Linked DNA regions of Homo sapiens: regions 2 and 3 are each linked to region 1. Evidence: fine-mapped expression QTL. A gene starts in region 1. Each other region holds a variant in brackets. All regions are shown on one strand. Distances are between the middles of the regions.

What was found.
Region 2: its variant is fine-mapped to the expression of PRKCE in whole blood (TOPMed, PIP 0.98).
Region 3: its variant is fine-mapped to the expression of PRKCE in spleen (GTEx, PIP above 0.99).

What each region holds. Positions count from the first base shown.
Region 1 is chr2:45,647,819-45,656,000 of GRCh38, forward strand. It overlaps PRKCE (protein kinase C epsilon), which reads left to right and starts at 3,857. Exons shown (of 15, transcript NM_005400.3): 1 at 3,857-4,630. The coding sequence starts at 4,283. LOC102724965 (a long non-coding RNA gene) reads right to left here and starts at 3,397. Exons shown (of 2, transcript XR_005647119.2): 1 at 2,147-3,397; 2 at 909-1,565. RefSeq lists silencers at 2,287-2,386, 3,017-3,116, 3,287-3,756 and enhancers at 3,132-3,426, 3,915-4,535.
Region 2 is chr2:45,840,582-45,848,763 of GRCh38, forward strand. PRKCE (protein kinase C epsilon) reads left to right here. Exons shown (of 15, transcript NM_005400.3): 2 at 2,419-2,482. Among named protein-coding and RNA genes, the nearest start is that of PRKCE-AS1, 170 kb to the left of the region's middle. RefSeq lists a silencer at 191-310. The variant A/T (reference allele first, on the strand shown) is at 3,883.
Region 3 is chr2:45,897,501-45,905,682 of GRCh38, forward strand. The region is part of intron 2 of PRKCE (protein kinase C epsilon); the gene reads left to right. Among named protein-coding and RNA genes, the nearest start is that of PRKCE-AS1, 230 kb to the left of the region's middle. RefSeq lists an enhancer at 7,094-7,163. The variant G/T (reference allele first, on the strand shown) is at 3,819.

The DNA.
Region 1 (8,182 bases):
ATCACAAAATCGCCTTTGTAAAGTATTAACTCTAGTTATGCTGCTTGCCCGCTGGAATGTTTGGTGTCTCTCCAGGAAAAAGTTGAGACCCATCTGCAGGCCCTCTGAGGTCTTAACTATCAGGTTCCTACTTACTTCATCTCCTGTTACTACCTGCCACAAGTGGGGCACACCTGGCCGCTTACCTGAAGAGTCATGGCTTTCCTACCTGTACACATTATACTTTTTGCAGCCAGTACCCTTCCCTTCCCTCTTTGCTGCTGGAAGAACTCCTGTTGGAAAGCCTAGACTCAGCTCAAAGGATTCTGCTGGTTGATGCCTTCCCAGGCTCCCCAGGCAAAGGGGTGATCCTTCTTCTGTGCCACTCCCATCCATAGACCTATTGCAACACTGATCGCCCTGTCCTGGCCACATCTGTTGTTCTATTCTTTTCTCATAAGCCTTAATTTTGAAAGGAGAAAGGCTCCATTTTGGTCATCTTTGTTAAATTATTGTATCATTTTCTTCCTTCTCACAAAGATTATGAAATAACTAGGCCATAGTTGGAATCCAAAGGTCATTTTACTCAATGTATATGCTAACCACTGTCTTATCCTTTGGGATTGGAGACAGGGGCTGAGGGAAGGATGAAGCTGGCAATAATTTCCTATTGGAATTTTACCGTCTAAGCCCCCTCCTTGGGATTTTCTTTTCACATGAAACCTGGAGCAGGGGGTTATTTTGGACCTGGCATCTCCATGATGTCCCTGGGGAATTCAACTTTTCATTTGGCCAAGTTTGAGAGTAGGAAGGCGAGAGATTTATTTAGAAATAAGGAGGTAATAAGGGCAGGAAACTAGCAGTGTTTGCATGCAGACTACCAGCATTCTCCCTTTTTATGTAAACATTAATCCAATACAAAACATGTATTTTGTTTGACAAAGTCTTTTATTACCCTTGCTCCAAAAGAGTTGCTGTAATGGAAAGGAGACAAGCATTGGTCGCCCTTGAGAATTGCAGTCTGGTGATTTACACGGAGTAACAGTCTGCTGAGCCAGCATGCTAGGAAATGGTGCTGGAAGTTTGTAGGTTGTTTTAAGACAGTCACTGAGATGGTAACAGACCCTATTTAATATATTTGGGGGCTGGGCATGGTGGCTCCTGCCTGTACAAGACTTACCCAAAGCAAGTAATGAGAACATATGAAGCACCAATTAGTCAAGGATCCCTAACTCCATGAAATCCTTGACTTTCCAGACTTCCCAACAGGATCAGGACTAGGGTGAGATGAGTGACGCACTCGGCTCAGGTACAAAATTTAACAGGTGCCAATAAACTCAGTAGTATAAATATTTTAGTGCAATATTTAAAATTATTTAAAATGTGGATATTGTGTCCATTCTGGATTCTCACATTTTTATTTTTAAAAAATTGTATTAAATCTTTATCTTGATTACGTTTATTGGTACCCTTTACATTTTGCCTCTGAAAAGTATCTCACTCATCTCACTTTGGTGCTGGCTCTGCTTCCCAAATGCATTTTCAGAAGATCAAGCCATATTTGCCACTGCCTTCCATCACATGCCCTGGAAAGGGGGAAAGAGGCTTCATGAGAATAGCAGAGTGGAAGGAAGAAGCAAAAGGGAAAAAAGTAATAATCAAAGAAATAAAAATTAAACAGCAATGAGATACCCCTGCTTGTGCTTTGTCAAACGGACATATTTTAAGATATCGTATCTCCAGCTGGGGGAGTGACAGGGTAAGACAACCATTGAAATCCTGGCTTTTTACATCGGAGCTACCTAGATCATACGGAAGACTGAATCTTAGCACCATCTCTACCCAGCTGCCCTGTTCAACAGGGCAGGCTGCGAGAAATTACTGTATTAGGAAGCTCCAGAGCGGTTGCAGGCAAAGGCTTTGCCTGTTCTTAGGAGATGGCCCTAGAACTTTTCGGATCATTTTTGGGACGTGTTTGCTGCACTTGATATCCTGTTTTTCCAGGGGACTGCCTCCTTCCTCGCCTTTAAGCCTTTTTAGGCTTTTAAGCCGCAGGCAATGATAACCTTTACCCACTGAGGAAAAAGTGATCGGGAGGCGCGTTTTAAATTTTGGTTTACACTAACCAGACCCGCCAGATGAACACTCAGCTTACCACAATACCTACAAATTCCCAGACTTGACTTGGCAGAAGGGCGAGGGCGGAGGTTTTCTTTCCCCATTTGCATAATCCCCAGCTCCCCGGCAGCGGAGCCGACCTCTTCACCGCCGCCGTCTTCGCGGGTGTCCCAGCTGGGCCGCGCCCCGGGGCCCAGCGCTCCGGCCCTGCCCTCCCAGGTTCCCAGTCTCGGGCGCGGGGCAGTCCCTCGCCGGCCGCCGGCCCGGTCCCGGCTCCCAGCCGAGGAAATTTTTCCCCAGCAGCCCAGGGCTCTCCTCACGTGACCAGCCGCGGCGGTAGCTTCCAGCGAGAGTTTAAAGGTTACGGAGGAAATTAGCAAGGACACAGCCACTCGCCCCCCGGAGGGCGCGCCCCATTTTCCCGCAGCCCGGACGGCGGCTGTCAGCGCGCTGATCAGTGCCGAAGTCCCCCAAAGGGGCACCGATAAGGACCAGCGCAAACAGGAACAGTCACTTTGCAAAAAATAAGCAGACCACAAACCAAGCCGGGGCTCTACCGAGCTTTCACTTGTCAACAAGTTCTCGCAGCCTGCGAAGTCCAGGACAGATCCCAAAGGGGAGAATGTCCCCAAAGAAAGGCAAGAGAGAAGAACAGAGTTTAAAACTTCACCCGAGCCATGCTTGTCCCTCCCCCTTCCCCCTCCCCCACCGCCGTGGATCACAGCGTCCCGGGACAGAGTGACAGATGGGCCAGAACTCCGCAGACTGCTCCTGCCCGCCGCGGCCCGAGTGGGGGTGGGCAAGGGAAGGGTCCCGAGGCCTCTAGGGCAACAGGGCCCCCTCCACTCCCCCATCCCCGGCTCTAAAAGACAGTGTTGGCCGCAGGGTCCCCGAGAGATACGCGGCCCGGCGGGGCCCATCCATGGCCATCCACGGCCCCCGGCACGCGCATCCAGCCCAGCGCCGCCGCACCCCGGGGTCCCGCGCGGGGTCCCCGCCCCCCGGCTGACCCGCCCGCCGCTGCGACCCCGGGCAGCCTCGCCAGCTCTCCACCGTTGTCTCCTCGGCTCACTTTTTCCGTATTGCTCCCCCAACCGGCAAAACTTTCTATTTCCCCAAACACTGCCGTGCGCGCGCGCGCGTGCACACACACACACTCACACACACACACTCACACACACTGACGTCTTTTGCGCATTTCCTGCATTAGAGGGAGGGAGACTCGCTCGCACACCGACAGAGGGAGAGGAGACCGCGGGGGAGCGCGGGCTGGCGGGCGGCGAGCGAGCGGCAGCCGAGAGCGGGGACGCGGGGAGCGCGGAGGGCGGGCGCCGGCGCCCAGGAGGTGGGGCCGCGCTGAGTCGCAGTCCCTGCCCCGCCGCCGCGCTGCGCACCGCCCGGTGCTGGCCTGCGCCCCCGAGCCGGATCGGCGGCCGCCCGGACTCCGAGCCCGCGCGGATGTGAGATTCCGGGCTCCTGGCGCCTCCCGATCGCCGGCTCCGGCGCGGCGCTGCTTCGCCCAGGAGGCGGCGGCCCCGGCTGGCCGTGGGGCTTGTGGATTTTTAAAAATTTGGCTCCGAGGAGGACCATTTCCTCTCGACATGCATCCCTCCGGATAGACTGAACATCCCTCCGTTCACCCCCCCGCCCCGCGCGGTCAGAGGCAGGCGCTGAGTGTGCGAAGAGGATCCGGGTTGAAATCTGCGCCCCCGGTTCTCGTCCCCGCCCCGTCCCACCGCCCCATCCCCCTCCCGGAGTCGAAATTTCCCGGGATTATGTTTCGGAAAGGTAGGTAAGCGCCGGGCGCGGCGCCCGCTTTCCCGCAGTCCGGAGCCGGAGAGCCAGCGAGGCGGCGAGGCAGCCCCCGCGGCTTGCAGCGGAGCCGACAGCTCGTCTTCTCTTCTGGAGGTGCAGCTGGTGGTCGGGGGGAGAGACTTGCTCCAAACACGGACATCCCCCAGCTCTCCCCCCTCCCTGTTTTCCGTTAGGAACCCGGCGAGGAAATACATGCACTGGCTGAGAATCGCCCGCGCCAGGGCGCAACGCCACAAGGTGTAGGGAGTGTGCGGGGTGGGGCGAAAGGGGACCCAAGAGTCCCTGTGGCTCGGAGTGCCGGGCCGTCGGTTCTTCATTCCTGCCCTCGGGGCAGACGGAGTGACCCCGGCCCCCACTCCCCGCCCCGACCATGGTAGTGTTCAATGGCCTTCTTAAGATCAAAATCTGCGAGGCCGTGAGCTTGAAGCCCACAGCCTGGTCGCTGCGCCATGCGGTGGGACCCCGGCCGCAGACTTTCCTTCTCGACCCCTACATTGCCCTCAATGTGGACGACTCGCGCATCGGCCAAACGGCCACCAAGCAGAAGACCAACAGCCCGGCCTGGCACGACGAGTTCGTCACCGATGTGTGCAACGGACGCAAGATCGAGCTGGCTGTCTTTCACGATGCCCCCATAGGCTACGACGACTTCGTGGCCAACTGCACCATCCAGTTTGAGGAGCTGCTGCAGAACGGGAGCCGCCACTTCGAGGACTGGGTGAGTGCGGCGCCTCCCCGTCATTCCGGGAACCCGGTTGTGGGGTCCCGGGGAAAGACTCGCTGGTCTTGATCGTAGGGCTCCGGGACTTATTGACGACTGGGGTGTGTGTGCCTGTAAGTCTCAGTTTCCTTGGGGAGGTACACTTCACTTCATAGTTGGGGAGAAACAGGCATTGGCGAGGAAGATGAGACTTGGAAAGAGGATGTGGCCCTCTGCTCCCTCTGTGCCCTCCAGTTGGTGGGTGCTGCGGGAGGTTTGCAAACTGGGAGAGCCTGGGCCACTGGTGCTGAAGGTTGGCCGAGGACCCGGCTTTCTTCCGCAGGCGCGTGGTGGGCTGGCTGTGTGTGATTGTGTGTGGGTGGGTCCCTCCGTCCTTGGAAAGGCACGTGGAGCCTTTGACTGAAGGCTTCTTGCACGTCCTGGCTTTGTCCTGCTTAGCCGAGCGAGGAGTTGCTTTATTTTTCCCTCCGAGAGGAAGCTGGCTTGTTTCTATTCTCTTGCATGGTGGTTAGCTCATCTTCTGACATACAAGTAGAAAAAATGTGTTCTCCTCCAGGATGTCTCCTCTATGGTCCCAGAAACATCAGTCGAGCTTGTTTTGTCCAATTCATTGCCCATCCATGCAGAATGAATGTTGCATTTTAAGAAGGGTTCTGCTTGTGGGTAATTGGAAGTCAGTGCTTTGAATCTTATTTAAAGTTATATTGTTTCTCTGTTTTGATTGTCAAGATACTGTGCAATAAAAGACGATTTCTAAGTATGAGATTGAGTTGTTAATTGATTCCATTATTAAACTATTAAGGATTTGGAAAGAGGTCTTGTCTCAATCTACTATAAACCAAATGCATCCAGTCTTGGCACTTGGACAAGCAGAGAGAAGCAAACCTTCATTTTGCTTTTTGTGTTTGTTTTTGGGTTGTTTTTTTTTTTTTTTTTTTTTTTTTCTCTCTTCTTGGAAGGAAGGTATTAATTTAGGATGTGGATTTTTGTGTTTTCAGGTTTGTTACATGTTTCCAGCAAGTACAAGCGTTCCTCTGGAGGTATATGTTTTCAGGGTTCTTTGGTCTACACAAAAAGTGAGAGAGCTATCTAAGCCTCAAAAGTGGTGTAGAGCAATTGCTTTCTATTGAAAACCAGCTAACTTCATGAATGTCCTAGAGGTCAGAGGTTGCACATGGATCACTTTGGCATATCACCTTACATATTTTTTTCAAGGACACGGAGTTTTAGGGAAAAATAAGAGAGAGCCTGTTGTTTTTGTGCTCATGGCTGTGATGTAGTCTGCCTGAAACCATGGTTACGGTTTCACAGGGAAGCTCCAACAAGCCACATGCGTAGAACTCTAGATTTGTGGTTTGCACTTTGGAAAGCAGGCAAACCTTTATGGAATCCCAGAGAACTCCATGCCATTCTATTCTACTTCACAGATGTCCCTCATCTCTGCTTCCTTCAGCCCCCACAACAGAGCTCCCACTCATTCCCCATTTCTTTTCCATGCATGGCCTTTGGGCCCTTTCCTCATGAATGCAGTGCATATGAGAGGGGGAGTGGAAGGGATAACTAATTTCAGAGGTAGACCTTGACTCTGAAAACCTGTGATTTTGGAGTTGTTGTTTTTGGACAGGAAGGGGGTGGAAAAAACTTGACGCTGGTAGCTAGGAGATGGGAGCCTTTTGCAGTGTATGCAGATGAGGGGCTTGGACAGTGGGGCAGAGAGCAGGGATGAGGAGCAGCAGGTCTGCATTTATCCATAGAACAGATGTTGGTTGGAGGGAGAGTGTCTTTGTATCTCTGGTGATGCTTCACTGGGGCACACCCCAAACTCTGGGAGCTTCAGGACACTGTCCCCACCTTCATCCCTCCTAGTGAAGCATGCAGTGGGAACTTGTTTGGTTATCATCCTCTAAGGTTCTCAAATTCATGTTGGATTTGGCCCTAGGCCAGATCATCTAGTGCACAGGCAAGTTTTACAGATGAGGACATTGAGTTCCAGAGAAGCTAGTTGGGGACCGAGGGTCACATGACAAGCAAAGGTGGGTTGGAAGTAGGGCCCTCACCGCCTGTTGCCCATGGCTTGTCTGATGGGGAGCCGAGCCTGCCCATCTGGCCTCCCAGCCTATTCTCCCTGCAGATCCATGTGCTGTGTCCCTGACATTTTTATTGTACTTGATAACTTCATCTCTTTTGCCTTATAGCAACTGTGAATTAGGTATGGCAGGTATTGGACAAACTAAAAAACTTGAGATAGAGAAGCCCAAAGTCTGAAGGATGAGTCAAGCAGTGGAGCAGGTTCAGAATGCCCATCTGTTTTCACCAGAGGATGCTGTAGCCACTCTGGTTCCTCCAGGCTGAAGGTGGGGACTCATTGGCAGGGGTGACTGGCCCCTGGAAATGGAGACAAGTTGCAGCTGGGCTAAGTTCACCTTTCCCAGTCTTAACATTCAGGGTAAACCCATGGTTTCATAGCTTTGGGTAGAATTCCCTGGGCTCAGGTCTCTTCACTCCTTACCTGGCAGGAATGAAGAAACACACCCTTCTCAGGTGTGGCTGAGAGATCTGGCCTGAAGTAAGGGGATGTGGATAGCATAAAGCAGCCGTTTCTCTCATTTTTGCGGAACACCGAATTCTGCCGCACTTTGAATTCACTTGTATTCCTGGAGTTCCTGTTTTGTGCTCATGTCTAACCAGGGAAGCTTCTCACTGTGGGCCATCCAGAGGAAAATGAGGCCCTGGGTTACTCTCAAGGGGCTTCCATTTCACCAAGGAATTGACACCAAGTACCCACATATACATCAAGCTTGTCTAACCCATGGCCTGTTAGCCACATGTGGCCCGGGATGGCTTTGAATGCAGCCCAACACAAATTTGTACACTTTCCTAAAACGTTATAAGTTTTTTTGCATTTTTTTTTTTTTTAGCTTATCAGCTATCATTGGTGTTAGTGTATTTTATGTGTGGCCCAAGACAATTCTTCTTCCGATGTGGCCCAGGGAAGCCTAAAAGTTGGACACCCTGATGTAGACACTTAACTAGCAATTAGGTTCCACACAGGTGGTACCATTAGTGTGTTAAGAGTTTAAAAAGGGAGTGTGGGCTAGGCACTGTGGCTCATGCCTGCAATCCCAACTACTTGGGAGGCTGAGCTGGGAGGACCGTTTGAGTCCAGAAGTTCAAGATCAGCCTAGGCAACGTAGTAAGACTCCATAACTACAAGAAACTTAAAAATTAGCCAAATCTGGACCTGCGGTGTGGTGTGTGCCTGTAGTCCCAGCTACTCAGGAGGCCAAAGTGGGAGGATTACTTGAGTCCAGGAGTTCAAGGCTGCAGTGTGCTATGATCTGACCATCAGGCCACGGCATTCCAGCCTGGGTGACAGAGTGATACCCTGTCTCTTGAAAAAAAAAAAAAAAAAAAAAAAAAGGTAGGGAGAACTGGAAGAATCCAGGAGGGTTTTTGGAAGGAGGCATGAGCTGAGTGTGAAACAGTAGGTTATATTTAAAGAGGTATCTACAAGAAGGAGCAGTGTTCCTGGCATGGCCACCGCAGGAA
Region 2 (8,182 bases), 190 kb after region 1:
CAATGCAGGCCTGCTCGTGGCACTCCCTCACTCCTGTGCCGACGGAGCACCTCAGCTATCACCAGGGGCCTCTCCCACGAGGCACTGAAGAGTCTTGTGGGTGAAAATGAAATTTTGAGGGAAACCTTAAGCTCTCTCAACCATTAGAGGCTGAGTCAGGCAACAAGATGGGGTCAGGAGTGACTCTGGGAGCCTCCTGGATTGTGTGTGGGGTGAGACGTTGGGAGAGTTTGGAGAACACCATTCCAGCTGGTCGCTTTGTCTCATGGGGACATGTGGTGCTCATGGTATAGCTGCCTCATCTTTCCTCTACCCTTTTTCAAATGTCATTTTAGTAGAGATGACATGCCTGCCTTCCTTCCTGGGGACAGAGCCTTGGGAGGGTGAATGTTCCCAGAATAGACTCTGGAAGTTCTGAACACAGAGCCTTTTCCCACCTCCACGAGTGTGTGCTGGGTGTTTCCTAAGAGACAGTGAGCTACGAACTAGGGATGCAAATCTGGTTATCATACTTTCTGTCTATCAGGACAGAGAGGTAGATGGACAATGTATTACAACTTAATAGGAGCTGTATTAGTCAGTGTTCTCTAGAGGGACAGAATCAATAGGATATATGTATATATGAAGGGGAGTTTATTAGGAGAATTGACTCACACGATCACAAGGTGAAGTCCCACAATAGGCCGTCTGCACGCTGAGGAGCAAGGAAGCCAGTCCGTGTCCGAAAACCTGAAAAGTAGGAAAGCCGACAGGGCAGCCTTCAGTATGTGGCTGAAGGCCCAAGAGCCCCTGGCAAACCACTGGTGTAAGTCCAAGAGTCCAAAAGCTGAAAAACTTGGGGTCTGATGTTTGAGGGCAAAAAGCATCCAGCACAAGAGAAAGATGAAGGCTGGAAAACTCAGCAAGCCTAGTCTTTCAAACTTCTTCTGCCTGCTTTATTCTAGCCACGCTGGCAGCTGATTAGATGGTGCCCACCCAGATTGAGAATGGATCTGCCTCTCCCAGTCCACTGGCTCAAATATTAATCTCCTTTGGCAGCACCCTCACAGACACACCCAGTAACAATGCTTTGCATCCTTCAGTCCAATCAAGTTGACACTCAATATTAACCATCGCAGGAGCCATGAGTAAGATGTGTCTGGTGTATTGTGGGAACACAGATGAGGGGCTAATTAATTCTGACTGGGCATATCTGGATAGATTTCAGAGAGGAGGTGATAATTGACCTTGACTTTGAAGGAGGAGGAGATATCCACTAGACTGACTGTTCTGAAGTAATTCTTGCTAAATGCTTGCCTGCTCTTTGCTGGGGACAGTGAAAAAGGAAAAGGAGGGGGATAGTGGTTCCTGCCCTCAAGATATTCACAGCTTGTTGGGGAGAGAGCCTGGCACTATGAACCAATGAAAGCTCTGTGTAGACAGATGGGATTGTGGAGGCGGAGAGGCTAGCAGGGGGACTTGGTGATCCAGGGTTTCCAGAGTTACTACTCTCTTATAGAGAGAACACAGTTTCTGTAAGGATAGTTCAGTCCTTGCAAAGATGTCTTTAACTACAAGAGGCCCAGCCCTCTGGCTTTTGTCTCACCCAATTATTTCACCACCTTGTCTCTGTATATTATAAGTAGTTAGCTGGATTTGAGGTGGGGAGGGAGGAAGTGAGGGTGCCTGTGCTGTTTCTTACGCCTTGCATACCTTCCCTTCCCTCTTCCCTTCCGTCTTCTACACTGATTTCAGGTTCGTCAGATACTTTATCAGTTCTTCTCTGTCCTTCATCATTAAGCTGGATTCAGCATTGTTCCCCATTTTTTAACTCCACAATGAGATGATAAACGCCATAAAAGCAGGAGTAGTGTCTTCCTGCTTCTCTTATTTCCCCTGGGAGCAGTTTCTGTGGTATAAAGAACATGGGTTTCTCAAGACAGGCTTGGCATTGAATCTCAGCATTACCACTTACCTTGGAATTTGGGCACAATTTCCATATCTGTAAAATGGGATAACATAGGGCTTTCTCAACCTCAACATCATTGATGACATTTGGGGCTGAATGATTCTTTGTTGCGAGGGGTCATCCTGTGCACTGTAGAATGTTTAATGGTATCTCTGGCCTCCACCCACTAGCTGCCAGAAGCAGCACTCTCTCTCTCTCCAATCATGGCAAAACTGCCTCCAGATGTTTGCCAAGCATCCCCTGTGTAGCAAAATTGCCCCCAGTTGAGAACCACTGGGATGGTGCTACCTATGGGGTATGCATCAGTCCTCCCAGGTCTGCATCTCACCTAGCACTCAACACATTGTAGGTTGGTGAATTACATGGAGCTGTGTCTCTAGGTTTTAGCAGTTTGGGGTAGAAATGTTGTGGAACTCTTAGGTTGCCCACACAATGCACTAACAGAGTCACTGTCATTTTCTTAATTGCAGATTGATCTGGAGCCAGAAGGAAGAGTGTATGTGATCATCGATCTCTCAGGGTCGTCGGGTGAAGGTAGGAGAGCGTGACTTCTCATCCCTGTTTTCTTCCATTGGCCCTTTGCCTTCTGGGTCTCTTCTTTCCCCCCCTTGGCCGGAACACATTATAGTGACATTTAATTAATTGGCATCCTTTAAAGGAAAAGGTTATTTTGAAGATGCTTACGCCTGTGTACCAAAAGGGACCAGCCATCTGTTAACTTTGGTGGAGCAGAGGGAAGATTTTGGACTTACCAAGTGAGGCCAATAAAACGGGCGTTTTTGCACGCTGTGTGCAAGGCAGGCTTCAGTGGCAGGGCAGCCTCTCCCAGGAGGCTTGCGTGGGGTTTGTGTGTGTGTGGTGGGAAGGAAGTAAAACCAGTTGGTCTAACGGCATCCAGAAATGAAACGAATAAGGTGACAAACTTCAGAATCTTCTTTAGAGCTTTGATAGAAGTGGGACTTCTTTTACCAGTTCTTTACACAGACAAAAGCTCTGCTCTTAAAGAGAAATAATGGGGTGAGGGAACATCTGCTCCCCACTGACTGATTAGATGGCGTATTACACCCTCTTCCTCTTACACCCTCTTCTTTCAATCCTTTCTTTGCTCACTTAACTACACTTAAGACCTTTGAAGGGTTTGCTGGGTGTTGAGGACTGAGCAGTCAAGGGAAGAAGGGAAGCCTAGAAAATAAAACCTTATCCAAACAGGAACAAGGAGATAACAACCAACTTAAGCTCTAAGAAAGATTTGGAATTCGGACTGAAATGTAGTTATTGTGGCCTTCTTTTCTCTCCTACTCCTCCATCTGTGGGCAGGGGGACAGAACAGTTGGCTTTAATGCCATGGCAGGGATATTGGAAGACCATGTGTAGTTCCTCTTGGCAGTGAGAAACAAACAGTGTTTGGGGACTGTGTCCCAAAAGGAAAAATGGACACTCAGCTCTCTCAGCTCTCCTGCCTGGAACACTTGGGCCTTTCACAACATCTCCCCAGAATACTGGGGATCACAAGCTCAAAGTCACAATCCCACACACAGTCTCTAGTTTAAGGCTCAGTGATAGAAGGAAGGATTACATATTCAGTTAGTCAAATGATGTGCTTGACAGTGGTGCCTGATGATTTCCATTCAGCTAATTTATCACCCAATCTCAACAGGTATTCGGAAGAATTCAATAATTGTGTGTATATGGGGATTATAATAGAATTAGGCCCTCTTTTAATAGATCCCAATTATTTGGCATAGGTTTAAAACTTTAAACAGCCTTCCAAAATTGGTTGCTTACATTTCCTGCTCTTTATTGCAATTACATTTTGGCATTTCCAACTTCCCTTCTCTGCTCTCAGCTCTGAACTGCCCAGAATAGAACCTGTTGTAGAAGATTTGAGGATTTAACAATATTTCACATGAAATATTTAAGACCTACAAAAGGGC[A/T]TAAAGACAAATTAAATGAGCACCAGTGTGCCCACCGCCCCAATTAAGAATTAGAGCAAGCAGTGAGGTGAAGCCTTGTCCTTGCTTTTAACATAGAAAGTGATCCAAATTCACCAGACTTGACTTAAGGTTTTGCAGTGTGGCCTCCTGATTCTAGACACTGGCGAAACATTTGATGGGCAAAATCAATCCCCTTTTTTCCTTACATAATCTGTGTGCAATATGATAATTAATTAAATATGTATTTCCTGTGCCAAGATGCTGAGCAACCAATGGGAGGCTGGGACTATTTTCTCTTTCTTTGAAAAGATAAATGACTTGCAAAATTATAGAAGACATCCTTTTTTACATTAGAGGGAAAGGAGATGGACAAATGAATGAATAAATAAATCAGAAGCAATTGATTTTTTTCTGCTTGCTTCTACAGCTTATTGCATGTGAATAGCCAAAGCAATTTTCACTGGGCTAAATTCTGAGTCTATTTTTTAAATCTCTTTCATCTAAAGAAAATAGAGTTTACTTTAGAAATGCTGACACATGCCAGAGTCTGAAAAGTGCTAGCATGTGTTGCTCTGAAGAAAAGAAGACATTTTTCTACTTTTTTTTTTTTTTTTTTAAATTGCTGTTCTTGGACTTGGGATCCTTTCTTTCGATGGTGGGTAGGACTTTCAATAATCCGTTCTGAGAAGCTGCTCTTGTTGTTTGTGTTATACACATCTGTTCTCCCAGTCCTGTTGCTGGGACTGTGAGGGTTCCTAGCCTGGAGGGGGTTTTGGAAGAGTTGAGAGGGCAAGGGGAGGCCCTAGAGAATGAGAAACCACAACATTTCATACCTAAACCACGTGAGATGGGTCTGGGGTGAAGCAAGTTGTCACAACCACCCTCCTGGATTTACAGACTGTGGACTAAGTATTTTTTTTTTTTTTTTTAGTGAAAATACCTAACTCTGCATTCTGTGAAAGGGAGAGAGTTGAAATGAGGCACAGCTGAAGTTTCACCACTCCATTATTCTGCCATCAAGCATCCCTTCAGCTCCCATCTCTCAAATGCTGCAGCCCCATCAATGGAAAAAAATACATTCATGGGAATTGCACAAAGTTTACAACACATGCAAATTCCAAGGAGCTCAGAGAGAGGTGTGGGGGTGAGATGGTGTGACTACACCCCCTTCTTCTAGGATGCGCCGAAGGATTCTTTTTCTTGCTCATATGCTGTTAGAAAGCCTGGGCGTTTACGTCTGCTGGAGCTGGAGCTAATGTGATTTCTAACTGTCTAATAAAATTCCACTGCTTGCATGTCCTGTGCAGTTCACTATAGTGGAATCTGGCCAGTGTGTGTTTTGGCTAAACCAGCCATCCTAACCCCAGATGTAAGGGGGTCAGGCTAGATGACAGTTAAGGTCATTTCCGGCCATGTGATTTTATCCTTTGGTACAATTTGAATAGACATCTGTCAGAGCTCGTGGCTGAGGGCTGGCTAATATGTACAGAAAAAAGGAGTTGCAAGAAATGGACTCGTTTGGTGCTAGGTATGGTGCTAGGCACTTTACCTACATTATACCAAGTAGCAAACCTGCTCAAAATGCTCTTATGGGAAGCTCCAGTCTCAGTCCATGTTTTACTTGCATCGTAAGTAATAATCACAGGGGGTTCTGGTAAGGGTGGCTCTCCAGGCTCTCCAGATGCTTAAATCAAAGCACAATTAGCCCAGGTAACAGAGGCATAAACAGCAATGTAATTCTCACCTGTGCAAATGATGGTTTCCTGCTGTGCCCATTTGTTAGTATTTCTTCCCTTCATATGATGTAATTTGCATATTATTTCTTATTCTTTCTAATAATGTGGCAATGCCCCATGATTCACAGGCTTACCGATGAGAGACGGTCGGCGCCTGACCTGGGGACTGATAGGTTCTTCTTCCCATGCCTTGCACCTAGGTGTCATGCTCACCTGGGAGAGTTCTTCAGCATCTAAACCAACAACAGCAATAACAAGTAGGCCCATTGGTATGTTTGGATCACCAAACTGTTTCTCCAACAAAATACAGAGGATACAAAGGAATAGGAATGATTTTTGCAACACGTACCTCACAAATGATGCAGATAAGTCAAGTTCTGGAGGGATTGCATATTGTGGAAGCAGAAGAGCAGGGAACAGGAGGCACCCTGTTTCTTTCTGCAGCCACAGGCTGAAAGGGGTCAGTCTTCTCTGTGGGACTCAACAGATAGAGGAGAAAGAGCACAGCCTTAGGAGTCCTTCAGACCTGGATTGAAATCCTGGCTCTAGTGTTTAGTAGCTTAGAGCCTCAGATTTCTCACCCACAACACAGGGATAATGGTTCCTATGGTAGGTGCTAGGCCAGGATTGTCATAAGAACAGTGCTTTGGTACAGTGCCCTCGCATGTAAGAGATGATCAGTAAATATCATGAAGCCTTGGAGACCTGAGGGCAGAGAGGTTGGCATAGCTCTACCCAGTGCCCTTGAAGAAGCATCTGGCAGGCTATTCAGGGAAACTGTTCAAGGACAGGTTTCTGACGCTGGGGTGGGACATGTTCACAAGGGCCAAGAACAGAGCCAGGTACCAAAGAGGCGACTTAACAGAGTAATCTATCTGGCAGGGACTGTGCGATTGCTTTCTGCACAGTTCAGGCCTTGCCTCAGTTTTGCCTATTGTCACTCCATTTATTCCTTATCCTCTCCCAAGTAAAGTAATTCCTGGAAGGACATTCTCTAGCATCCCTGAGCCACTCATTTGCATTCCGTGGCCCTTAATGCTAGAGGCTTCTCCTTGTCAGAGCCTGGGCTTGTCCCATCCCTGCTTAGTGTGGACCATAGCATGTGGTCCCCATCCTCTCACCAGCCCTTGGGTAAAAGGCCTTTAAATATTTGAAGACAGTTTTTCAATATCTCTTTTTTCAGGCTGAATCAATCAAATCCCTTAACCTTTCAGAAGGGATATTTTAGAAATCTTAACTCAACTTTGCAACCTCTTCTGGACTTTTTTCAAGTTGCACAGGCAGACGTGATCAAACCAGCTTCGCTTGGTTCTGAAATAATAACATGTGTGTAGAGCTCTTAGCTTTACCAAGTGCCCAGCAGTATTACCTCCATGTGGGAGATGGTGAAATTGAGAGGTCAGATGATGTGCTCCAGGCCAAAAGGTTGATTATGAGACCCTGCTGGGTCCAGACCCCAGGCCACAATCCAGGTCCTGCTTCCATTCATGGCCCCAGTAATGAGTTTGCCACATGGCAGTGATTCCCCACTCCACCCCTGGTTCGATCTTTTTATTTTAGTTCTCTTCTTCAGAAAGCTTTTTATAGAAATATAAAGCCAAAGTTCTTAGCTTTGAATCCAAAGGTGACCAGAGTCTCCTTCATAAATAAGCAGATCCCTTTTCCACTGTGTTAGAAATAAAAGCTCTTTTGGTCCGAGCTCAAGGTTGGATCCTTCTCAGGTTGTCTGTAATGTGGATCCATGGCTAAGTCTTGGTCTGAAACTAGACCTGACTCAAATCCCAGCAGGTTAATAATTCTTCCTACTGACCTGCCCTCCTTGCTAGAGATGTTAGTTTTGTATGTGAAGACTCTGAGTCCATAGCAGGCATTAGAGCAGTACCTCCAGGGCTGAAATCAAAGTGAAAGGGGTTTTTCTCTTGAAACTCTGTCTTAGCCAGTGGGCAGGATACATATCGACGGGTTCTCTCAGATTCAAGCCCCACTGGAGCTTCAATTCATAAGAATTTTACCTCTTTTCTTCTAAATTCTACGTTAATAATCCAATGTCTTCTAGTTAGTAGAAAATTAAAAAGAACCATTCATTCAAATGACCAATAGTTAGCAATTCATTTTTTTTTTCTTTTTTTGAGACGGAGTCTTGCTCTGTCGCCCAGGCTGGAGTGTGGCAGCAGGATCTCGGCTTACTGCAACCTTTGCCTCCTGGGTTCAAGTGATTATCCTGCCTCAGCCTCCTGAGTAGCTGGGACTACAGGCATGCACCACCATGCCTGGTTAATTTTTGTATTTTTAGTAGAGACAGGGTTTTGCCATGTTGGCCAGGCTGGTCTCGAACTCCTGACTTCATGTGACCCACCCACCTCGGCCTCCCAAAGTGCTGGGATTACAGGTGTGAGTCACTGCATCCAGGCTACCAGTGCATTTCAACAAATGTGCCCAGCTTTGTGTCTGTGCTGGGTTTGGGGAATGGAGAGTGGAGAAGGAAGTAGAAAATGGGAGATGGCATTCACAAGAAGTGTAAAACCCCTTTGCCTTCAAGGAGCTTGCAATTCAATTAGGCACCC
Region 3 (8,182 bases), 250 kb after region 1:
TCAAATGGATGAAAGAATAGTTAGTGTTACAGAACAGAATGCAATTGAGTATCTTTAGTGGGGTAAAAGGCACTTTGCCCATGATAATTGCCAGATGTTTAGAGGTGCAAGAGGAGATGGCACCCCATTTTTTATGGCTACATTTCAGTGGCTTTCATGACAGAGATTATTTGTTTCCTGCCTTGGTTGCAGCCCAGCTGAAGTAAGAGGAGTCAAGGTCAGTGTGGGGGGTACTGAGATGGAGAAAACAGCAATATGGTTTATGATTTGAGAGGAAATGTTTTCTTAGCCACTCACATATCTTTCCATGGTTCTTCCTGAAACTCCATCACAAGAAATTAAATTATTTGAGTTAAGAAGTGGCTTTTAATAATCACTGCTGACAAGGGCATGATGAGACACCCGGATAAACTGCTGGTAGGATACTGATTTGCCCAACCTCTGGTGTGATTTGGGCGATCTCTATGATAGTCATTTCAGAAGTATATACCTCTTCTTGCCCAGCAGTTTCATCTCAGTCAATAAGGACGCAGTTGGGCAAGTGCACACCAGGCACAGGCGTGGTTCCCTTTTGCAGGCCCCTCGTGATAGAGATGACTGGTAATAGTCTAATTCCCAAAAACAAAAAGCAAAGATGAAGCCACGTGGCTTTTATGACCTAGTCTCTAAAATCACAACTCATCGCTTCACCTTATTTATTCATTAGAGGCGAGTTATTAAGTCCAGCCCACACTAGGAGGGAGGGGAGTTAAGCTTCACCTCTGAAGGGAGGAGTAAGAGAGAATTTGTGGGCATAGTTTAAAACAGCCACAAACACATGAAATTATGTTCAGTCTGAGCATGTTAGTGTGATTAGGATCTACCTGCTGGAAGCTGTCTGTCTTCTCAGTGGGTAACAGAGAGCAGCAGCAAAGGGTAGGGCATTTGACTTTCACACTAGGAGATACTTGGATAACACTTAAGGAACAGAAAGCTACTCAGAGAGGACTGGGTCGCTGGAGTCTGGAAGCTTGGTCCCACCACACATTGCTTGAGGACTCTGAGTAAGTCAGATGTCCCCTGGGCTTTCCTATCTGGTTATGCTGAGGATCTAATAAACCAGTGCAATTGAAAGCACTATATAAAACATGAAGCTGGCTGTTACTATCATTACCACTACTGTTACTGTGGGAAGAGAGTACCAGTGTGGGAGATGGAGAGGGGTGGGACATAGAAATAGAGGAGTAGAGAGAGGGATTTGAATACTATTGTAACCAGATCAGGATTTCCTAGGGTGGCTCTGAGGAGGGAGTGGAGAAGGCCTGCCTTGGCTGAACTCGCATGAGGCCATGCCATGATGATCACAGGGACTTCTGTGAAGGACCCCTGTCTTGGGTCTGCCAGAACTCTAAGGCCTGGTCCATGAAAAAGGCATCAGTCAGGGTGGAATGTCCCAAAAAGAAAGCAGCCCCCAATCTTCTTAGCTAGGCCATACACCCAACTCATTGTTTCAGGACTTACATGTTCATTCCTGGCTTTGTGCCAAGCCCTGTGCTAGAGGCTGGGGAGACTGTCCAATAGGCCATAGCGCCTTCTCTTTAGAATCCAAGTCCCGCAGGACAGGAAGACTGCAGCCGTTTTGAGTGAAAGGAGACTGAGCTTTGGCTGGTGGCCTCATTCCCTAAGCCTGGATTTGACCTTCAGGAAATGTTTTCTCAGATGGCCTTATTCTCTCAGAGGTCACATAGGTCTGAAAACTTTGTCTTTGGAAATTAAACTTTTTCCCCCTTTTGATATTTATAGGCTTCTTCAGTGTTGGGCAAAGATAAAGCCAGGCCATTGCATTCAGATGATTATAATTGCCACTCCTCCTTCCTTCCAAGTCTTTTTAAAAAATTTTTTTTCTTTTTTTTTTTTTGTAGATAGAGTCTCACTCTGTTGCCCAGGCTAGAGTGCAGTGGCACAATCATGGCTCACTGCAGCCTCAATCTCCCTAGGCTCAGATGATCTCCCCACCTCAGCCTCCCAAGTGACTGGGACCACAGGTGAGCCCCACCATGTCTGGCTAATTTTTGTATTTTTTTGTAGAGACGGGGCTTTGCCATGTTGCCCAGGCTGGTCTTGAACTCCTGGGCTCATGCAATCTGCCTGCTTCGGCCTCCCAAAGTGCTGAGATTACAGGCATGAGCTACTGTGCCTAGCCCCTTCCAAGTTTTAATGGCCAACACCATAGTTCCCGAAGGCCCTGAATTCTCTCTCAGAAGTGGCTGGGCCTGTAGGTAGTGCTGTGCAGAGCATTCCTGCCTGAAGTTCCACTTGCTGTTGACCAGGGCAGTGTGGAGAAAAGCCTGACACCACCTGGGGAGAAAGCCATGCGGCAATTGTGTCTCTTTTCATTTCTTGGTTATATTTCTAGCATGAAGGGGCTCTAAATATCCAGAAATAAATCTTTCTTCTACTAGCCCGGGCTCAACTATGAAAGATAAGTTACTTTTACTTAGCTGCTTGTGACCTCTGACTATATATTGCACAGTAAACCAAGTCAGTTCAGTGTCTTACTAGATCAGCTAATCTATAACAGATTTAAGTGGGAACGGTTGCTTCGGATAAAATGCAGTTGGAAAAAACCCAGAAAATAACAAGCGTTGATGAAGATGTGGGGAAATGGAAACTGTTGTTTGTTGCTAGTGCACATGTAATGTGGTGCAGCCCCTGTGGAAAACGGCATGACATTTTCTCAGAAAATTGAATTACCATATGATCCAGCAATTCCAACACTAGGTATACATCCCAAAGAACTGGAAGCAGGAACTGATCAGATGGATATTTATACACCAGTGTTTATAACAGCATTATTCACAATAGCCAAAAGGTGGAAACAACTCGAATGTCCATCAGTAGATGAATGGATAAACAAAATGTGGTCTATACATGCAGTGGAATATTATTCACCCCCAAAAGGAGGGGAATTCTGATACATGCTACGCCATGGACAAACTTTGAAAACATTATGCTATGTAAAATAAGCCAGTCACAAAAGCACACATATTCTATGATTCCACTTACATGAGGTCCTAGAATAGTCAAGTTCATAGAGGTAGAAAGTAGGATGGTGGTTGCCATGGGCTAGAGGGAGGAGAGAATAGAGGACTATTGTTCAATGGTAGAGATTTTCAGTTTGGGAAGATGAAAATGTTCTGGAGATGGATGGTGGTAATGGTTTCACAACAGTGTGAATGTACTTAATACTAATGAATTATATACTTAAAATTTACCATTTTAACCACGTTTGTGTAATTTACCACTGTAAAAATCTTTTTAAATGTAATTGATTCCTAAATTTATGCTGCCAGGCATATGATTTTGGGATACAGGATTGAACCAGACAGAAGGCCTGACTGCAAGGAGAACTAGATTGCTTTCTGCTGAGGAGAGATGAACAATACACACTTAACAAATGAGTAAGGCAATACAGGTACTGTAAGGACTTTGGGAAAGAAACTGGGTAATTAACATGGTACAGAACCATGCCTCACATATGTGGGATGGAGATGCTTTCGCTGGGTTGGCTAGGGAAAGATTCTGATGAATTGACATTTGGGCTGAGTCCTGATGAGCAGAAATGATTTGATATCATAAACTCTACTATGTATATAGATGTTTGGAATCCATTTTACTGGAAATCTCATTGAGATTTGAGATGCAGAAAAATTGCTACAAAATCCAGAACTTAGTACAAATTGTGCTTACAAAACCGTCTGTGTTGAGTACTCCTAATCGGTTGCTTGAGGATTGAGATGGGGACAAGCAAGGCATTAGTGTTTCAGAATGTTAAAATG[G/T]TTCTTACCCAAGGCCAAACGCTCCGACCTGGTCATGTTTTCATCTAGGTAAGGTATTAGCCTGTTCACATATTTCTCATGTAATATTTTTAGGAACTAGATCCAATAAAGTTTGCCCTGGGCCTTCTTGGAAAGACTTGTGCCTTTTAGAAAAGAACCGATTTACAAAAATCAACGTATGGCTGATAGATTTTTAACTTGTCATTTAGAAGATCAGTCTATTTCACCTTGGAAACTAAGGCTATTTAAAGCTGTGAGTGTAAAGTTTGAAGGATTTTTTTATAATTCACCTGAGATGGAAAGAAATATGCTGCTGGGACGATGAAGTGTGTGCACAGCTGATTCGTACAATGTGTTTACATTTCCCATTATGTATCTTAGAGACTCTCCTGTTGTTGCTCAGATTTTTCTTTTTAACTCAGTCTTGGGGTAGAAGATTAAAGTTCCCTGAAGAATATGGAAATGCAGTTGAATTCTTGGAAGTCTGTACCGTGCTGGCCTTGGTTTGTGATGAAGCTCACACACGATGTCTGTAAAACCCTGAAGTCCAGCCAGGTGCGGTAAAAGAGTATGGTGACTTCAGAGTTTAAGAGCAGGTCATTTTGCAATAACTTTTTATAAGAGTACATGGCCATCTTTGCCTTAGGATAGTGAAGTGGTATTTTCCAGGACAGAAGAACTGAAATCATCTGAATTTCTAGGTTGTAGATCCCACAGTCCTTGGGAATTTTGACTTACAAACTAGGAAATTATTTCACCCTCATAAAAATCTCCAACCCTCTCAGGTCTTTCCCACTCCCACTTGGGTTTGAATTGGAGTGTTTGCCCAGCCATGGTGATGATTAGGAGGTGTAGCAATATGGGCCCAGAAGGCGACTTTGGGATTCATCTCTCATCTCTCGTAGTGCATGAGAGAAGCCAGCTCACGGCTCTCTTAGAAAACATCCATTGTTCCTGAAACCTGCAGTAATTGGAACATGAGTGTAATACATACAGTAAACAGAATTCTGCCTATAAGCTCTTACCAAAAGCCTGCCAATGCCCAGCCTGCCAATGCCCAGCCCATCTTGAACTAAGGGGCTGTGATCCAACAGGAGGATATTGCCCACAGGTAGCTCCAAGTCTGCCTGAGGAGCTAAGATAGAAATGAAGTAATCAGAAAATACTAGCAAAAGTCAAATCAGGATATTTGGATTAACATCCTGAGGACATGGGATGTGTGAAAAGCTGTGCTGGGGAAAAGTCAGAAATGAGGAACTGGCTGGAGTGGGCAGGAGAGGCCAGGAGGGTCAGGGAAGTTCTTGGAGCTGGAACTTGGGTAAGGTCTTCAAGAAAGACTGTGACTACACTGGTCTGGGAGCTTGGCTAGGAAGACTTCTGAAGAACCCAGCCCCCAGACCTAAAGTAGGGGCTAGAAAGAAACAGTAACTCAAGGGTTAGTTATGTTTCAAAAATATTTACATTTCTGATATCCAAAGTGTTCTCTGTAGGGTTAATAGCTATTAGAAGGGAACTGGAGTTCAGTGGGCTCTGTGGCCAAATAAGTTTGGATAGTGCTTGAGTGAGCACTGGGAGTTTCTGGACTGCAAGACTACTCAGGCCTTTGTATGCTGATGTACAGTGACTTTCCCAGATGGGCATATATAGCATACAACTTCCTGCTTATTTGATTGTGGAATTATGTATTTTCCCCCCAGGAGGATCCTACGTGAATATAGTTTAGTTCCAAATAATATAATTGAGTTGAGGAAATGCTAGTCTAAATGATTTCACTTCAGTATGTGTTTTAGTGTGAATCACTATCAATAGTCATGTTTTCAGTGGTCTCAGTGCCCGAGGGAGTTGATTGGAAGGAAGTCAGAGGGACTTCATTAAATAAGTCAGTGAATGAGGAGTCCTCCAAGGGATCCCTGCCTGGCAAGAAATACCCTCAGGCCATCTTGGTTCAGAAGTTATTCCTCCATACATTAACAGGCACATAACACAGGCTTTAAAAAATACTAATTTTGTGAATATTATGGCTACTCCATAGACAGAGCATCCCCTTTTCTTCACTTGAGATACAGGGAAGGATTTTGTGTCAATGGTATGGCGTCACCATCCCCATGGGACAGGGTTGCAGCAGCTGGGGCTGTGAGGGAAGATGAGGCCGAAAGACCCAGCAAGATTAGGGTTGCAGGTAAGATACAGGACACCGTTAAATTTGAACTTCAGATCAACTCTGTATAATATTTTGGTATAACTATGTTCCAAATATTGCATGTCACATAGTTATAAAGAATTATTTTTTCTGGAATTGAAACTTAAACAGTCATCTTGTATTTTTATCTCCTGTCTGGTAACCCCATGTAAGATGTTCAGGGAAGCCTAGACACACAGACCAGAAAGTGATGTAGAATGTACAAGGCAAGGCAGTGAGGAATGATTCCAAGTTTTAGAGAGCCCAGGTCTTCCTTCTTGGAAATGGGTTAATACATCCTCAAACCCTCTTCCCACCTCATCACTTTCATCATATCCCCCTCAGTTTGGGAGCATTTGTATATGAGAGCTTGTAGCCTGGCAGTTTTTTTTTGTTTGTTTGTTTGTTTGTTTGTTTGTTTTTTTTGGCAGGGTCTCACTCTGTTGCCCAGGCTGGAGTGCAGTGGCATGATCCCTGCTCACTGCAACCTCCCATTGCTGAGTTCAAGCGATTCTCGTGCCTCACCCTTTGGAGTAGCTGGGATTACAGGCACGCACTACCACACCCAGGTAATTTTTGTATTTTTAGTAGAGACAGGGTTTTGCTATGTTGGCCAGGCTGGTCTCGAACTCTTGATCTCAAGTGATCTGCCCTCCTCGGCCTCCCAATATGCTGGGATTAAATCAAGTGCAAGATCCAAAATGTTACTAAAAAAGCTTTTCAGCTTTTTAGATTCTCTTAAAAATGCAAACAAACAGACAAAACAGTTTCTTAGAAAGAAGCCGGTTGCGTGCGAACCGAGAAGTCTTGAAACCAAAAGAACTCCAAGTTCCCTGCCTGTGCTGAACACTATGGGGGTGGCACGTGCCCATCCAGGGCAAATCACAGGGGGAGAAGATGAGGTTTCTTAACAGTACCACCTCTCACTTTTGGTATTTGTAATGGAGAACACAGACTTATATCACATGTGAAAATGAAACAATGGTTTAAAAAGTCATGTCTCTGTGCTGGCTCTGGATGAGATGAGCCTTTTGAGAAGGCAGAGGCGTGCTCGGTGGGTTGGGCTCTGGGCATTTCTTCCCCTGCCAAGAAGCGAAATGTCTTAGCTCCATGTGCGTTGATGATTACTAACTGGCCAGGGCTTACTGTAAGTGGGCTGTGCTCGGGGATCTCACCAGGAAGAAAAAGAATCAAACTAATCCCTTTCTGGAAACCGTCTCCCCCGGTTGCCTGGGCCACCTGTCCCAGATGCGCTCCTCTTTCCCAAGACTCTTGCTGTCTCCCCGCTGCCCCAGAAGCCTGCCTTTTCTCCAGCCCTGCATGGGACATTCTCCTGATGGCAGGGACCCATGAGAGGGGGGCTGGGTGAGCCTATGTGCTGTGAATGTGTTGGTGAGCCCTGGGGGAGGAGTCAGGGGAACCTGGGGAGCTGGGGGTCCACGTGTGAGGTCCCGGGCGTGGACCATGGAGAGCTGGTAGCCTTTGTTGACCATTGTACAGACAGCGACAGGGGCTCCACATCACTTCAGCAGGCACGGTGACACACAGGACTCACTGGATGCTACGGTGTTAATCACACCACTGGTGCTTGCTGTATCCTATGGCAACAGCAGCTCCTTGTTAATTCAGAGTAATGCTGGGGCAGGCCGTAGTCCAGGCCATCTCACACTGGCTAGGGCAAACCCTGGCTCAAGAGCATCCTTGACTTATGGCCAAGCCTCAGGAACCTCTTGGCTGGCTCTCCAACATAGCCCACGCTAACCCAGTTTTGGAATCTGGTAGTGGGAAAACAGGGAAGCTCCAAAAAAAAAGTAACTCAGAGGTCAAGGTGAACCCTGAATGAGTCCATTAGATTCCACAATCAATATCCAGCTTCTAAACATTATACATATTGATGAGCTGATTGCTAGGAGACTAGTGCTGAGAGAGCTGAAATCTATTTTGCTGAGGCCAAATTGGCTGTTGATGGGCCATAGTAGACTATGGCTTTAATAATCAGGTAAAAAACACCCTGCCATCTGGTAAAACACAGCTTAAGCACATTGGAGCCCTGTGAGCTTTCCTAAAAGCTGGGCAAAGCAGGGCTTTCACCGGGCTCTGTGTATCCTGGCCCTGCAAGTCCTTTCTAAGGGGCTGAGGGCTGGCCGGGGCCCTAGCTGGGGAACCTCTGATGCTGGGAGGGTGG